2 linked regions of the Homo sapiens genome follow. The protein of the gene in region 2 purifies or fractionates together with the protein of the main gene of each other region. This does not show direct contact. Each region holds a gene or a part of one and is shown on either strand. Other genes may lie near its edges.

What was found.
Region 1: the proteins of GNE (region 2) and RAB3GAP2 fractionate together in Homo sapiens (co-fractionation; one large-scale study listed by BioGRID). This does not show direct contact.

The regions. Positions count from the first base shown.
Region 1 is NC_000001.11:220,147,637-220,150,624, forward strand, and holds the end of RAB3GAP2 (rab3 GTPase-activating protein non-catalytic subunit), read right to left. Parts: 3' UTR 657-2,988; downstream 1-656. UniProt on the Homo sapiens protein: Regulatory subunit of the Rab3 GTPase-activating (Rab3GAP) complex composed of RAB3GAP1 and RAB3GAP2, which has GTPase-activating protein (GAP) activity towards various Rab3 subfamily members (RAB3A, RAB3B, RAB3C and RAB3D), RAB5A and RAB43, and guanine nucleotide exchange factor (GEF) activity towards RAB18.
Region 2 is NC_000009.12:36,216,872-36,220,452, reverse strand, and holds part of GNE (bifunctional UDP-N-acetylglucosamine 2-epimerase/N-acetylmannosamine kinase), read left to right. Parts: intron 1-432; coding exon 433-615; intron 616-2,153; coding exon 2,154-2,270; intron 2,271-2,852; coding exon 2,853-3,088; 3' UTR 3,089-3,581. UniProt on the Homo sapiens protein: Bifunctional enzyme that possesses both UDP-N-acetylglucosamine 2-epimerase and N-acetylmannosamine kinase activities, and serves as the initiator of the biosynthetic pathway leading to the production of N-acetylneuraminic acid (NeuAc), a critical precursor in the synthesis of sialic acids.

The sequences.
Region 1 (2,988 bases), on a different chromosome or scaffold from region 2:
ATTAACAGCTCACTCGAGCAAGAACCCTCCTGACAGTACTGGCTAGAAGTTTGGATGGATTATTTACAATATAGGAAAGAAAGCCAAGATTTAGGTAATGAGTGGATGAGTAAATGGTGGAGGATGGGAGTCAAAATCAGAATTATAGAAGAAGTATTTCCTGTAACTATAGAAAGAATTATGTATATATACATGCAGAAATATATATGTGTGTGTGTATCTGTGGATGGATATATGTATATCTCTTCCTATATATATCCATAGTGGACTTATTCAGAACATAGATATGTATTCAGCTTGTCTTCAAATACGGCCAAGCAGAAAATGTTTTATATTTTATAAATCATCTTTTGACTCTGTATTTAAATTCTATGATACTGAAAATAAAGGCATTCTGGAAAAATACTGACTGATTTTGGTGCAGAAGTTTTGAGTATCAAGTAAAAGAAGTATAGTTTTGAAAGGGAATGGCGGAGGCCTGTTTCCCTTAAGAGGTGAAGGGTCATTTCATTCTTCCCATTAGTGAACATCAGCCTTTTCAGAATAGCTAGTTTTTGGGGTTGGATCAGAAAGAATATAATCACCAAATTTGTTACTCAAGAAAGGAAGAAATCTCTTAATAGTTAGTTATACTTATGAATGTTTAGGAAACAACATGAAAGCTGAAAATTTATTTCACTAATATACATAAGAAGTTCACAACAATGAACAGACAGAAAATAGCAGTATATACAGAATTTCACTACTTACAGTACATTACAATAGAGAAAGCATTTTATAAACAGTTCAGTATTGGATTAAAATCTTTTAAGGATGGCTAATTCTATTCAGCAGGAATCTAACTTCTAGACACCCAGCAAACCCATTCCTATCAGGGTGAGAGAGGGCTTTTGCTGTTGCTATAGTGTACTGTAAAAATATTTGTTCCTTATAAATGAAGTGGACCACAGCAACTTCTAAATGAACATTATATTCAGTGTAAGTCTCATATTATTAAATTTCAGATTTTTGACTTTTTAGATCGCAATTGTTTTTAAAAAGCAATTTAAATGTAACAGTGTTTACTTTGACCATAGATGAAGTTTTATAATAAAAGTAAAACTTTTTTTTTCTGTTTGCAAAAGTATGAAGCATTAAGAAGCATGGTGCTATATATCTCTTTATCTACATTTACCCTGGCCCCTCTAGTTCTGCATCTAAACAGAACCTGTAATGTAGAAGTTATGATTATTTGAACACTTTTTGTTTTCCTTCAGCATTATACAATATAATTTAATAAGATACAAATGCATATTTAATGTTTGTTAATGAAGAAAGTTGTGTGAGGGTGGGCATATATCTAGGAAAACACTACTGGTTACTGGCTTCTCATCAATAACTACAAAGTACCACATACCTTTGTTTCAGAAACCACCCATTCTACATTAAAATCTAATTCCTTTATCATCTATGGCTCTTTGTTATTATAGAATGTCTACATAGGTATTTATTTGCCTTTCTTCCTATCAATCAGATTTATTTATTTTAAAAGCCCTTGATAAGTAGTAAAATATTTAACTGCTTTTCTTAACCATACAAGTCAGAATTAGATTTTAAAATTCTATGAAAAATTTTAGGATAACAAATCTAACTAGAGACTTAATGATTTGTGTTAGGATTCTGTGAGCCATACTTCAGCTTATTATTGTTCTCAGCAATCCCCAGATTTGATTGTCTGTTCTACCAGAGTAAGCTTAACCAGTTTTATTATCTAAAATGCTTAATAAGTGCCCCCTCCCCGCCAAGTGATGATGGAATTGAGGATTTATTCTTTAAAAATACCTATAACTCCAAGTTTCTTTGACTAGCCTCCTTAAGTTCATACTACTACTTTCAGCGTACTTGGAAAAATCACAGGAAGAACTAATCTCTTAGAAAACATATAACAAGTGACTGTTAACACAGAGCCAGATATGTTTACAAGAATTCTAGGATGTGTGTGGCTGGGGCAGCGGAGACCCAAGCAGAGGCTGGGAGGTTGGACTAGCCCTTTCCAGTGCTGCTACTCTGTAAAATGTATGTCTCAATCAGACTCACAGGCCCCCATCCCAAATACTCAAGACATCTTAACCATTTATCTTGTAAGATTTCAAGTTTGATAGTTACTTAACAGTAATTACTAAATTTTAGCCAGTTAAATTCTTGTTTGGATGTGCTCTTTTAGCTCAAAAAACAGATTTGTTTTTCTTTTTATATCCCTGAAGGACATACTCCTCAACTTTGCATGATTACTATAGTTGGCTTCTTAAGGGGAAGTGAAGAAACAAACTTCTGTATCACAATGACTTACTATGAATAATAATTGTGATCCATGACAGATACCCATAATTACACTGTATGGCTACATTCTAAAAATATACCACAATAAATACTTGGTATTTGTAGAGCTCAAAGCACTCTTTTACAGAGTTTTGGTTAGTTTGGTTTTTTCTTTTTTTTTTTTTTTTCGAGACAGGGTCTTGCTATATTGCCCAGAATGGCCTCAAACTCCTGGGCTCAAGCGATCCTCCTCCAGCCTCCCGAGTAGCTATAGTTTGGTTTTAATCAGTAAATATTTATTTAGCACTTGGACTGCTCTAGGCACTATAGGGTACAAAATTAGTTGTATTTTATCCTCTCATCCCAGCTGTGAGGTAGGTTTGCTAAAGCTGTAATACCACTAAGCAGTTTTTTCAATACTGTTCCCAAGGACAGATAATATTAGCAAATCCCAGAAGCATTTCTAAACACTTGTAGGAAAAATAAAGTCGGACTTAAAATTTTTAGTATCTTTGCCTTTTTTTTTTTTTTTTTTTTACATAAGTTTTACAAGATAATACATTTTTACAGTGACCTGATGTGGATACAACTTTGCAACTTGGCAAAAAGCAAATCTTAACTTACATTATAATTAATTTGCTGCATTTTACACATCTCTGATTCTCAATTTTGGCAAGTACAACAGGTTAA
Region 2 (3,581 bases):
CCTGTGGATCTGCCGGCTCCTGCCTTGCCTCGGTTGCAGGTTGCCCCTGGGTGCTGTGCCTGCGTGGCTGAGTAGGCTCTTGCTTCAGTGTTAGAGAAAGCCTTGGTGCAGAAAGATGGACAGTGTGTGCTGGGCCAGGGGGTCTGCTACCCACAAGGTGGGCATGCATTTTTGCTGCACTGTCCCCACAGCTGTGTTTGAAATCACAGTGACCCAAGCAGATGGGTCACAGGGCATCAGAGGATCTGCTAAAAACATTTCCATCCAAAATGCTGCCAGAGAATGCTTTGATGCCTAGTGGGCTTCAGCTGTCTAAAGAAGTATCTATAGACCCTCACATGCCAAAGCTCTGCTAAATAGATGAGGCGTTGTGATATCATAGTTTTCTGTTTCAGGTAAAGCACCCTCAGTGATTTCTATCCCTCGCTGTAGGAATCGGTGGTGGAATTATCCATCAGCATGAATTGATCCACGGAAGCTCCTTCTGTGCTGCAGAACTGGGCCACCTTGTTGTGTCTCTGGATGGGCCTGATTGTTCCTGTGGAAGCCATGGGTGCATTGAAGCATACGCCTCTGGAATGGCCTTGCAGAGGGAGGCAAAAAAGCTCCATGATGGTTGGTGTCCCTCTCTCGAGGAATTAAGTAACCAAATAGTAGACAAGTACTTCAAAGTGGAAATTCCAAAGACAGCTGAACACTGAAGCCAGAAGTTTCCCCCTTTTCACTTCTTAGGGAAAGAGCAGGGCTCCCTCGCACTAAAACTGCACAGTCTTCTTGGCTGACCCATATTGCCACTCTTCCTCCCCAGGGGTGGTGGTGGACAGAGGTCTAGAGTTCCAAGACAGCAGGGAAGATTTCCTTCAGTTTTGTTTTCTCAGCCAGTATCACAGGGAGGGTACTTAATACACATTTTAATGAAGAAATAAATGGACAAAACATGTTATGTATATATCACACATACATGCACTGTATGTGTAGTATATCTGTGCTTCATACATAAAAACAGTGTAGATTTTTGGCCCCCAAAACCAATTTGTGAGCATATGCTGAAGGAAAAGAGATGGGGAGTGGAGGCCGAGAGTGCAGGAGAGAAGTGTATAGAGCCCTACAGTAGGGTTCTGAAGAGGTGGGAAGAGATGAGCTGCAAAGCCAGGCAGAGGGTCCACGAGAGGGCATGGCGAGCCGAGATGATGGGTGTATGGGACAGGAAGCAAAAAGGTAGGGGATCACTGCCTGGTGGTGCCCCCTATGAGAGAGGTAAGAAGTATGCTCGTCTGTTGGCAGTGGGGGTAGAAGGACTGGGAAGGTGGTGAAGGTATAGAAAAGCGCAGTCAGAGAGAATGGGTGAGAGCTGTGAGGGCCCAGGGGAGACAGGAGACCACCAGTTGATGTCTAGGTTGCAGTTTGCACAGCTGGGGATTTTTCTCCTTCAGGGTCCAGATATTCTAGCAGATTAGTAGGAGGCAGATTGATCTGAGTTGGTGACGGGCAGAAGACAAGGACTACAGATAACCACAGAAATACCTGCTGCTTACTGAGCATTTACTGTGGCCAGCACTTAACTAAATACTTTATGTCCATGATCTCATTCCGTTCCTCAAATAACCCTGCCAGGGGAGGCACTACTGGTCTCATCTTCTAGGAAGGAGGAATGTGTACAGGTGAGGTGACAGGCATGGGGTCATGCAGCTGGGAGTGGCAGAGCTGGCACTGACCCCAGGCCTGTGTCTGTTCCTCAGCCACTGTGCCTCGCTGCCATAGAACGCGTGGCGCTGGCAGATGGCACAGCATTGTGTCTGGGATGAGTAAGGAAGGAGTGAATGTGGGAGGAGGGTGATAATTTGGAGAAAAGAACACTTCAAAGACTGTCTGCTACTGGAAGTGAGAAGTGAGGGAGCCAGAGGGGTAGGAGGCTGTCGTCAGACTTGAGGTTTTTCCAGGAAGATAGGTTCTGGGTTATGTACAACCAATTAGCAAGAGGGTAGCAAAGGCTTTAGGGGCAGTGTATAGAGATGTTTGTGAACGATAAGCTTTGCAATTGTGAAAAGAAAACACCGTCTTCCCATGTAGGGGCTTGCTTTCCACAGGCCCAGTGGTGAGCTTGGCCTCCCCACAGCTCATTAGTGACTGCTTTTCCTTCTCACTCTGTTCAGAGGACCTGCTCTTGGTGGAAGGGATGTCAGTGCCAAAAGATGAGGCTGTGGGTGCGCTCCATCTCATCCAAGCTGCGAAACTTGGCAATGCGAAGGCCCAGAGCATCCTAAGAACAGGTGAGCATGTGGCTGCAGGTGGCTGTGCTGCAGGGGGTGGCCTCAGATATCATATGGCCCAGCCCGGCCCCAGAAGAGACCCTGCTTCCCTAGGGACAGGTGCTTTGCAGTGTCTGTTCAGAGGTTTCTTTCCTAATTACTCAGAGGTAAAAAGGGAATTGGATTCAAGGTATTTGGCAGCATTGCCTTTTTCAGCAGGTGGTTGGTTTGGTTTGACAACTATAAAAATGCTCCTTTCATTTTACAGGAAATTTAGAGAAATATAGGACAGTTGTAAGAAAAAATATCACTTAGTTTTCCCATTTGGAGGTATCAACTATTAACATTTCCTTCGAGTCTTTCTATTCATTTTTTTGCCTAGTGGAGATCATGTGGTACACCCGGCTTTTTCCACTTGAGGCTGTCACATGATCATTTTCTCATATTAAGAATCAACCGTGAACTGCTTTTAAAACACTGCCTCCCACTGCATGCCGTGGATGTTCTTTAACATTTCTGCTGCTGGCTCTTTTCTGCCTTCCTCTTTGGTATTTTGATTTTGGCTTCTCTCAGAAACTCATTTTAATTTTTGTCTCCCTATAGCTGGAACAGCTTTGGGTCTTGGGGTTGTGAACATCCTCCATACCATGAATCCCTCCCTTGTGATCCTCTCCGGAGTCCTGGCCAGTCACTATATCCACATTGTCAAAGACGTCATTCGCCAGCAGGCCTTGTCCTCCGTGCAGGACGTGGATGTGGTGGTTTCGGATTTGGTTGACCCCGCCCTGCTGGGTGCTGCCAGCATGGTTCTGGACTACACAACACGCAGGATCTACTAGACCTCCAGGAACAGACATGGACCTTCTCTCCAGAGCTCCTGAGTGGAATCAAGTTCTTGTCTTTAGGATGACCGTTTCTTAACAATCAAATCTGGTATTGAACTGCAGGTGACTTTGGCAGAGAAATGTTTTCACTTTTGGTCTCCTCTTCCAGAGTCACCTTTCCCCACTCCTATTTTTGTAGATGCTATTCTTTCTGATGTCTTCTTACTAGGGGTCATTTTAGCTCAAACCCTGTAAGTTACAGTCACAATTTTCTGTGCCAAAGCAGCTACAATAATAGAGAGGAAGCCTTCTTAGAACTCTGCTTACTAATGTATTAATACCACTGAGACCTTCAGGCCTTGCCTGGGATATCACTTCATCCTGAAGTTTGCATTAATAATCCTTCCAGGCCGGGCACAGTGGCTCACGCCTGTAATCCCAGCACTTTGGGAGGCCGAGGCGGGCGGATCACGAGGTCAGGAGATCGAGACCGCCCTGGCTAACATGG